Linked DNA regions of Homo sapiens. Changing the gene in region 1 together with any one later gene gives a genetic interaction. Each region holds a gene or a part of one and is shown in the gene's direction. Other genes may lie near its edges. The genes, in order: UBA2, ARGLU1 and CDC73.

Evidence for each region.
Region 2: changes in UBA2 (region 1) and ARGLU1 together harm fitness less than expected from each alone (positive genetic interaction), as found in Homo sapiens cells (one large-scale study listed by BioGRID).
Region 3: changes in UBA2 (region 1) and CDC73 together harm fitness less than expected from each alone (positive genetic interaction), as found in Homo sapiens cells (one large-scale study listed by BioGRID).

The regions. Positions count from the first base shown.
Region 1 is NC_000019.10:34,434,792-34,438,447, forward strand, and holds part of UBA2 (SUMO-activating enzyme subunit 2), read left to right. Parts: intron 1-76; coding exon 77-177; intron 178-3,656. UniProt on the Homo sapiens protein: The heterodimer acts as an E1 ligase for SUMO1, SUMO2, SUMO3, and probably SUMO4. It mediates ATP-dependent activation of SUMO proteins followed by formation of a thioester bond between a SUMO protein and a conserved active site cysteine residue on UBA2/SAE2.
Region 2 is NC_000013.11:106,544,138-106,547,793, reverse strand, and holds part of ARGLU1 (arginine and glutamate-rich protein 1), read left to right. Parts: intron 1-3,633; coding exon 3,634-3,656. UniProt on the Homo sapiens protein: Dual function regulator of gene expression; regulator of transcription and modulator of alternative splicing. General coactivator of nuclear receptor-induced gene expression, including genes activated by the glucocorticoid receptor NR3C1.
Region 3 is NC_000001.11:193,233,428-193,237,083, forward strand, and holds part of CDC73 (parafibromin), read left to right. Parts: intron 1-2,828; coding exon 2,829-2,929; intron 2,930-3,656.

The DNA.
Region 1 (3,656 bases):
TGAGTCTGTGTCATCCTAATTAAAGATAACTAATTTTTTTTTTCCCAAAAACTCATACTGTTTGTTTTACTTCCAGCTGCCCGAAACCATGTTAATAGAATGTGCCTGGCAGCTGATGTTCCTCTTATTGAAAGTGGAACAGCTGGGTATCTTGGACAAGTAACTACTATCAAAAAGGTAAAGAAAAGTTTTATTTTTTTAACTTCCCAAATATTTATTTGAGACCTTGGAGCAGGAGGAAATAAACTTTGTATTTATATAAAATGAACAGGTGAACATCCAAAATGTAAGGACTTTTATGCTTATATAAAACTTAAAATGCGGGGCCAGGTGCAGTGGCTCATACCTGTAATCCCAGCACTTCGGGAGGCCGAGGTGGGCGGATCACCTGAGGTCAGGAGTTTGAGACCAGCCTGGCAAGCATGGTGAAACCCCATCTCTACTAAAAATACAAAAATTAGCTGGACATGGTGGCCGGCGCCTGTAATCCCAGCTACTTGGGAGGCTGAGCCAGGCGAATCACTTGAACCTGAGAGGCAGAGGTTGCAGTAAGCTGAGATTGCACCACTGCCCTCCAGCCTGGGCTACAGATCAAGCCTCTGTCTCAAAAAACAAACTTAAAATGCTATAAACGTGCTCAAAAGACTATGGGCAAGGAAATCTTTCAGCTCTGCCATTTTGTTTCATTTGACTTTTGTATTAAAATCCTTAGAGTGGTAAGCATGATATACCAGGCATCAAAAATTTCTTTGTGTCGGCTGCGTGCAGTGGCTCATGCCTGTAATCCCAGCACTTTGGGAGGCTGAGGTAGGCAGATGACTTGAGGTCAGGAGTTCGAGACCAGCCTCTCCAATGTAGTGAAACCACGTCTCTACAAAAAATACAAAAATTAGCTGGGTGTGGAGGCGTGTACCTGTAATCCCAGCTAGTTGGGAGACTGAAGCATGAGAATTGCTTGAACCTCGGAGGTGGAGGTTACAGTGAGCCAAGATGGCACCACACTCCAGCCTGGGCAACAGAGTGAGACTCCATCTCAAAAAAAAAAAGCCAGGCGTGATGGCTCATGCCTGTAATCCCAGCACTTTTTGGGAACCCGAAGCGAGCGGATCACCTGAGGTCAGGATTTTGAGACCAGCCTGTCCAACATGGTGAAACCCTGTCTCTACTAAAAATACAAAAATCAGCGGGCGTGGTGGTGTGCACCTGTAATCCCAGCTACTTGGGAGGCTGAGGCAGGAGAATCCCTTGAACCGGGGAAGCGGAGGTTGCGGTGAGCTGAGATCACGCCATTGCACTCCAGCCTGGGCAACGAGCGAAACTCTGTCTCAAAAAAAAAAAAACCAAAAAATTCTGTTGTCTAAGAGTCTGGGCTTATAATGTGGAAGGGAACTTTGAAAACTTTTTAGGGGTGTATTTGTGAAGTACTTCAAACATTTAAATACAACTAGAGAATAATAGAACAAAATACCTGTGTGCTCATACCTCAGTTTTGTTTTGGTTTATTTATTTATTTGTTTATTTTTTTGAGACAGAATTTCGCTCTTGTTGCCCAGGCTGCAGTGCAGTGGCGCGATCTCAGCTCGCCGCAACCTCCGTCTCCCTGGTTCAAGCGATTCTCCTGCCTCAGTCTCCCGAGTAGCTGGGATTACAGGCGTGCGCCACCACGCCTGGCTAATTTTGTATTTTTAGTAGAGACGGGGTTTCTCTATGTTGGTCAGGCTGGTCTTCAACTCCTGACCTCAGGTGATCCACCTGCCTCGGCCTCCCAAAGTGCTGGGATTATAGGTGTGAGCCGCCATGCCTGGCACATATCTCAGTTTTTAAAACCTCAACACGGCTTCATTTGCTATTCAGATATTTTTTCTTTCAGTTCTTTTAAGAAGTTAAATATTGTAGTTACATTTGAAGAGTCGTTTTCCATGTTTTGAAACTATAGAAAGAGAATTATAATGTACTTAACATTTGCTGGTTGCGTCTAATTTTTTTTGGCAGCTTATTCATGTTAGAAATTGTGTCTTTGTTTCTTTTAACTGTTAAATGTTATTCTTGGAACCTTATTGAATACCATTCTACAAAAGACTGTTGTGTATGTCAGTGCGTATTAAGTTGTTGAATAAGTGGAGGCCTTCAGTATCTGTTGACAGATCAAGACGGAAGTTCTCTGTCTGCATTGCAGTATGAGTCTCATGACTGCTTGCCATGTGGCTACCCTCAAGAAAGCATATTGGAAGGCTGAGGGCATCAGAAATGGTGTTTCAGAGAAAACTCTAAATCTGCTGCAATTTATATTAAAACAGTATTTGAGAGTTTTGATTCTTGAACAATTAGCCTGGCTAATTTTTGCATTTTTGGTAGAGATGAGGTTTTGCCATGTTAGCCAGGCTGGTCTCAAACTCCTGACCTCAGGTGATCCGCCTGCCTTGGCCTCCCAAAGTGCTGGGATTACAGGTATGAGCCACCACGCCCGGCCAGACATTGCTTTTTATATCCTTGTTACTGTGATTCTGACACACCACTGTGTATTAAGACTGAAGGTGGCTGGGCATGGTGGCTTACGCCTGTAATCCCAGCACTTTGGGAGGCCAAGGCGGGCGGATCACCTGAGGTAAGGAGTTCGAGACCAGCCTGGCCAACATGGTGAAACCCCATCTCTACTAAAAATACAAAATTTAGCTGGGTGTGGTGGCACGCACCTGTAATCCCAGCTACTTGGGAGGCTGAGGCAAAAGAATCACTTGAACCCGGGAGGCAGAGGTTGTGGTGAGCCTAGATCACGCCATTGCACTCCAACCTGGGCAACGAGCGAAATTCCGTCTCAGACAAAAAGAAAAAAAGAAGAGACTGAGGTTAGGAATATCTGAGATAATGAAAGATGATTCATTTGATAGTTTTGAAAAGTTGTCTCAGGTGTCATGTACTTCTTCCAAGGCATAAATTCCTTAAATTGTAATTTTAAACTTGAATGTGTATCAATAAAATGGGCTGGGCGCAGTGGCTCACGCCTGTAATCCCAGCACTTTTGGGAAGCCAAGGCGGGCGAATCACATGAAGTCAGGAGTTCAAGACCAAGCTGGCCAACATGGAAAAACCCCGTCTCTACTAAAAATATGAAAATTAGCTGGGAGTGGTGGGAGATGCCTGTAATCCCAGCTCTTTGGGAGCCTGAGGCAGGAGAATTGCTTGAACCTGGGAGGCGGAGATTGCAGCCAAGATTATGCCACTGTACTCCAGCCAGGGTGACAGAGCAAGACTCCGTCTCCCCACCGCCAAAAAGAAACGTATATCAATAAAATGAAGAGTATTTGGTTTAGTAACACCTAAGATTTTTCTGTGTAGGGAGATATATCTTGAAATTAATCTTGTAGTTTACTTAATTTCAGGAGATTATAAGGATATGGCTGTATTCCCCAGACCCACTTAGTTTTGCTCAAAAAAAAAAAAAAAACACATATAAGAAAATGGCTGCGAATAATATTTAGATAACATTTACAACTTTGAGAAATAATTTCTTGGAAAGCTGCTGTTTGTCTTTCCAGTAGTTTTTCTGTTTAGTGTGATCAAGGTAAACTCATATTTGACACTCAGGTGTAGTAATTTTTATTTGGGCTTGTAAGTCATGTTCACTGAACCAGGAGTCGGCGTCCTGGCACAGCCTT
Region 2 (3,656 bases), on another chromosome or scaffold:
CTTTACCTTACCCCCAACCCAATCCCCAATTCCCAACCCCGTCTCCAAAAGTGTACTCAGTTACGGGTTTTTAAAATCTTTTCAGAATGTCTGTAAAAGCATATTCAGGCAGATACAAATGCATAATATTTTAATTCTCCCTTTATTGCACAAAAGTAGCATGTACACAAGGAACTTTCTTTTTTTCATTTAACAGTGTAACTTGGAGATTTTTCCATTGCGGAACATAGGGGCCTCCTTTTTTCCTCTTACTTGTTTTTAATGGCTATACAATATTCTCCTTTATATATCTTCAGTAATTTATTTAGTGTACCCCATATTGGTGGATATTTGGGTTTTTTTCACATTCTTTTCTTTCTATAAACTGTGTTGTAATATGTAACCCTGTAAATATATCAGTTTCGCATGGGTGCAAAATTTGCACATTGCTGTACAAGTACATAATGTAAATTCCAGAAAATGTACTTGCTGGCATAAAGTATTACGAAGATGTAATTTTGATAGTGTGAGAGTGCTCTTTATATGATAGCATATGTGTGTTAGTCCATTTTTTGCTGCTCTAACAGGGTAATTTATAAAAATATTTGGCTCAGGGTTCTGGAAGCCGGGAAGCCTAAGAACATGGCACAGGCATCCCATGAGGTTTCCCCATGGTGGAAGGCATCACATGGCGAGCAAGCTAGACAGAGAGGGCCCTAGAGAGAGAGAAAAGTGGTGGCCAGACTCGTCTTTTTATCAGGAGCCCATTCCCATGGTAACCAACCCACATCCCACTCGGGTAATAACAGAATTAATCCATTCATGAGGATGAACCCCTCATGGCCTAATCACTGCTTAAATGCCCCACATCTTAATACTGTTAACAATGCCAGTTAATTCTAACAGCGACCTTTGGGGGACATACTGAAACCACAGCAGTGTGCTGTCACACTTTGAATTTCTGTCTTCTAGGGTAAAAAATGGTATATTTGTAATGTTCATTAGATTTCTCTTATGGATTAAGGTTGTGATGTTCTTTATGTACCCTCACTCTCCAGGGCTCTAGGATGCTTTCCTAGGGTTGAGTTAGAACCTTAGAAGAAAGTGAATCTGAGTATTTATATTGATAAAATGTTTCTTAGGCACACACACACATCCAAAGAACCCTTACTACATCTTGATTCAGTTGCACACACTAAGCTCTTACCCCAAATTTGTGATGATTTATTAAAACTGGATAAAGTGATTGGCATATGAATTCATTAATGATGACCGATAGCAGGCAGTTCTTTTTGTTGTAATATCAGTGAAAGCCTAAGGAAGAGAGTGGCTATTTGAAATAGATTCTGATGTACAGGTAGGATTTCCATAGAAGGAAAGAATGGCATGAGCAAAAGACGGGGGAACAAGATAGAAAGGAGAATTTAGAAGAGGAGTAGAAACAAAGCTGGAGCCAGGTTATAGAAAATCTTGTCTTAGAGAAACATTATACTTTAGGAAGTTAAGCTGTATGCCATGGACAGTGGATATCATTGGCAATTTGAGAACAAGAAAGAGTGAGCAGTGGTCAAGAAAGGTGAGTCTGGCAGTATCGTGTAGGATGGATTGAAGGACACACTGGAAACGGGCACCATTTTAGATGTACAAAAGATATGTGGCCCTAAACTGATGAAGCTGGCAAAAGAAATGAAAATAAACTCTAGGCAGAGAATATAAAACAAGAAGTAACAAACTTGACTGAAGAAGGAAGAGATGAAATAAAGCTATAGAATTTGAGTGGCGGAAGGGAAAGTGTAAAGGGCAGATTTATTTTAAGGATAAAGTGGAAGAATTTAAATCTTGAAACATGTTGAATTTTGAAGCAAGTCCTAGGTCTCCCAGGTGGATGTGTCCAGTAGCCAGGTCTAAATGTAGCATAGGAAAAAGGTTTTAGAGAGCTGTATCTTAAAGATACATTTTAGCTCTCTGTTGGATTTTCCACCATGCTCACCTGCCAGATTCTCTCACTGCTTGTAATTCTGATCTTTGTTATCTCCAACCTTACTTGACTGCGGTTGATTTGTTCCAACACCTATCTTTTAGTCTACGTCACATTGCTGTCTAAACTTCTTTGCGTTCTTCCCTTTTTGCTACTTAAGATAAAATCTCAACATTTTTTATTGCATACCGGAGTCCTGTTACCTTTTCCATCTTCCTCTGCCATAAATGCCTGTAAACCAGTCACTTTACACTTTATTTAAAAAATACATATATATCAATGGAGACAAAAGAAGTAATTAGTGTGTGGCATTAGAGAATGTATCAGAAGAGAGAACGTTTTTAAAAGACTTAAGTGAACAGAAGAATTTATTTGAATAAAGAGAAAAATCACTGAATTTGATAGATTTTGACCATACAGAAGAAAATTTTAGTAGAATAATGGAGATGGAATCAATGACCTAAAATTTGACTTTGAATGGGAATAGGTAGGCAGCTCAAAGGATGCAGCGAATGTTTTAAGATCACTGTCAGATAGAGGGGAAAAAGGATAAATCATGATAACTGATATTAAAAAGGGTTAGAGCAGGCTTTCTCAATTTTGGCACTGATTGGATCATTCTTTGTTGTGGGAGCTGTCTTCCATATTATAGGATGTGTAGCATTGTCCCAGTCTTCCACCCACTAGATGCCAGGAGCCATTCCCAGTTGTGGCAGCCAGAATCATCTCCATGCATTGCCTAATGTCCCCTTGGGGAAGGGATTAAAATTGTGCTTGGTTGAGAATTGAGAATTGAAGATGTGTGTATGGTATCTCTAGGAAGCATGAGAAGGGCCTGACTTTGGTAAAGAGGGGGAAATCTGTGGAAGAATGCGGGAAAGAAGTTGCTTGACATGGAAGGAGTTGAAGGCACTGCAGGAGTGGAATCAGTTATACCAGTGTCCTTTTGAAATTAGATAGCACTTTATAGTTAGTCAGGTCAGAAGGTTTTGTAATATTTTTCTTCAGGTAATTGGGTCTGTCGTGTTTCTTGGTTGTCTACTGATACTATAATATAGTCCCTTTTTTTTCAGCATGATTTGACCACACAAAAAGCCCCAGTGGAGATTTTTTCCTATGTTTCTGTTTTTTTGTGTGTGTGTATGCCCTTCAACTATAAATATGGCAATTGGTAGATAACCTGCTCTTTGAGTAAATCTGTACCTCGGTTTATAATTAACAATCTATTAATCTGGTACAATGAAGTTAGAGATAAAAATAGGTATAGAACAAAATCTGTCATCTCAACATGTGATTTGTGGAAATTAATTTCCACTTCCAAAATGTGTAAATGCTTTTCCATAATTTGTTCATTTATTTTCATTGAAAATGAAAGACAGAAAATGTAGATGTAATTAATAAAGGGTTCTCTTTTAATTTTCTTAATTCTTTTTTCTCTACCAAACTATGTGACCTTCGTCAGATTTTATGACACATGCCATTGTGTGTAAGTTGTCACCTCATAACTAAAATATTTTGAAGGCATGTAATTCATAGGAAGTCCTTGTTTTTACCCCCTTTTTTGCATTTGCATTAAAAATTTTTTTGTAGATACATAATAGATAACACCTGTTGCAGGGGTACATATGATAATTTTTAATACATTTCTATAATTAATTTTTACTTTTAACTTTCAGGCCGAAGAACAGTTGAGAATTGT
Region 3 (3,656 bases), on another chromosome or scaffold:
TATCAAATTTTATCATGGGTTCTAAATAGAAACTGTCTTTGAAAAGTGTGTTGATGTATATTTACTTTGGTCATCAATAATGTTAACATTCTAATAATTCCTCAATAACTTTATATTTTGGATAAGTAAACTTGATTTTACTTATAAGAAGAAACATTCCAACTTCTGGAAAACCCAGTGTAAAAAATTCTTTCCACTTGTTCATTTGTTCCGGATCAGCTTGTAGAACCCAGCAAATTAGGCTAATGTAAGGTATTCTATGTTTAGATTTTTGGTTTGGAGAATTTCAATTTTCTGGTAAGAAAAAAATGAAGGCATATTTTATTGTAAGGGAATAATGTAATAAAAATAGGAATAGCTCTTTTATCATGGTTTAACACTTTTATTGAATTTAAGTGTCCTTTAACAAAATATTAAGCTGTTTATAATATAAAGTGCCTATAAATTTAGACACACAAATTACCTTATTTCTTTAACCGGGAGTAAAAGTTGAGTATATATCCGTGATACAGAGAACGCAACACATGGCACATTAGATGAATTTACCTTTGAAGTACTTGTTAGTTTTCAGGCATTAAGAAGTCAAGGCATTGAGAATATTAATATTAAAAATTTTCTTAAGAAAATTGCAACCAGGGGGCACTGCAATTAATTAGTGTCACAGTATCTTATAGAGTAGTAGACCAGCCCCTTAAACTTATGCCTCAAGACTGGTAGGATAATTCTCTCTCTCTCTCTCTCTCTCTCTCACACACACACACACACACACACACACACACACACACACACACACATATATATATTTAAAATTTATATATTTATTTATATATATAATTTAATTATAATATATATAATATACATATTATATATATAATATAATTTAAAATATATATATATTTAAAACACACACATAAATATATATATATATATTTAAAATTATAATTCTTCTCTGGTACCTAATAGATACTTTGAGTAATATAGAAAATGAGTAAGATGAGAATTTCAGATATCAAGCTTAAAACCAAGTAGGAAAGTTATATCACTTGTATTTTATGTTTGCAGTGTATTTGCAGAAATAATACAGTGTATACAAATCTCATCACTATGCTGTAAAATACTGCTTGTGTGTATTAGTTAGGGTCTCCAGCCATTGAAGCCTCCAGCATTTTCCCTACTTCCTTATTTTCCTTTTCCTTTAATTGTCCTTCCAAGAATTCATGGGGAGTAACATTTTTATTCTGCTTCCGTGCTGATGCTATGAGACCCAGTAGAATATAAGTGACCTCTGTCCAGCAAATTCCCTTTGCTTTGGCAGGCATCTTGGGCTTTCAACTGTTGTAAGTTACATCATAAAACTGAAAGATTATTTAATAGTGTGCTGCATTGCCAAAGATGATTTTGACAGTTTGAGGCATGTATCCCATGAAAGGGGAAATTTTTTAACTTAAGATTTAATTTTAGTCTCAGAGATTTTTTTTAATTTTTTATTTTATTATTACTATACTTTAAGTTTTAGGGAGATTTTGAGCAGGTTGAGAACTTTAAGCTGGCAGTTTTTAATAGTTGTAGGTCTTTGCTTGAATAGAAGGTAACCCTGGTTTAATGTTTTTTTGTATGTCTGCAGTCGTCATTAATTGCAGTGGTTATCAAAGTGTGGTCTGCAGACCTCAGGTCATTCCTAAGACCCTTTCACAGAGTTGCAAGGTGAAAACTATTTTCATAATAATACTGAGATGGCTATTCTCATGATTTATCTGCCCTTAAATAGGAACAGTAGCATACCCAGTGCCCTAGCATAGTAATTTATTCTCCTCCTTCTCTTCTTCTCTTCTTCCTTTTCTCTGTACTTCTACCTTCCTCCTTTCTCTTCTCCAACATGCCCATGCACTTGTTTCTTCATTTATACAATGAGGTTTCTAATACAGTGAGGTCATTGGATTGTTTTGAAGATTAAATGTGTTAACATCATAAGTAACGCATAAAGTCCTTAAAATGGCACTTGACACATAGTAAATGCTCAATAAATGCTACTAATGTTAACCATTATTGCTGATAATGTTGTTGTTTTGTTCCCACCGCTTTAGTTATTGGCTTTAACTGTTTATGGCAGTACTTCTTATAATTTCTCAATTCAATTAAGTATTTTATAAAATAATGAAATTTGAGGGCCTACAAAGAAGTTTGTTCTTTCTAGGAAAACTGGGTTGTTTGGTTGGGAAAAAAATGCTTTAAAAACTACTTATAAATTTAGGGTGAATGAAACAGTTGTAAAACAATTGCAAAAATTATAAAAGTCTAAATGGTTTCTATACTCAGATTACTTCCTAAGTAATCACAAGAACTCAGATAAGGCCCTGGGACCTCGTAAAATGGTTGATGAGTTCCTATAATGTAATATTTTTAGTTAAAGTAAAATATTTAAGATGTGTTTGAATTTTAAATGATTTTTTAAACAACTTTTTTGATTAATAGTTATCAACCACTATTCCCTATTACATTGGAAAAGTGGGCCACTACTCTAATTAACAGAAGGGAACAGAAAGGGCAAACAAGATTACATACGAGTATTGTCCATTGAATTATGTTTAAAAGACTTAGGTGTAAAAACCAGATACATGAGAAGTATAGCAATCATTAATACATTCTAATGGCAATATCATATTGAAAAGGTGGTAAGTACTGTATTTGCTTCATGGAAGGATTGATAAGACTCTTTCACATGAATGTTTATGGGACTGTTGCCTAAGGGATTTATAGTAGCTAAAGCTCAAGTTTGAAATAATCTCCGTCTGTCCCCTACCTCCCCCCACCCACTTTTCTACTTGTAGGGACCGCGTTGTAGCCGTTTTTGTGCAGGGTCCTGCATGGCAGTTCAAAGGTTGGCCATGGCTTTTGCCTGATGGATCACCAGTTGATATATTTGCTAAAAGTAAGATTCTCTTTGTATTTACTGTATCCAGTATAGAAATGTTCTCACTTTATTTAAGAGAAACAGTCATATAGTTCTGCGCATATGATGTGTATGTCAAAAGATTGCTGTTAAGTAACATATGTTAATGTTTAAGCATCTGTGACATATTTTTAAAAGCTTTGTATATTAATACTTTCTGTGTAGGTATATCTGAAAGTGAATATTGCCTATCCCACAACATTACTAATTATTTTTAGATCACTTAAAAATCATTGGCCAGACACAGTGGCTCACACCTGTAATCTCAGCACTTTGGGAAGCTGAGGCAGGTGGATCACCTTAGGTCGGGAGGTCGAGACCAGCCTAACCAACATGATGAAACCCTGTCTCTACTAAAAATACAAAATTAGCCGGGCATGGTGGTGCACACCTGTAATCCCAGCTACTCGGGAGACTGAGGCAGGAGAATCGCTTGAACCCGGGAGGCGGAGGTTGCAGTGAGCCGAGATCACTTCAGCCTGGGCAACAAGAGCGAAACTCCGTCTCAATAGGAAAAAAAAATTAATACTGTTGCATGTCCATAGATTTTGATTAAAATTGATGCCAGTTTTTTTTTTTTTTTTTAGACGGAGTCTGGCTCTGTCGCCCAGGCTGGATTGCAGTGGCGCGATCTCAGCTCACTGCAAGCTCCGCCTCCCGGGTTCACGCCATTCTCCTGCCTCAACCTCCTGAGTAGCTAGGACTA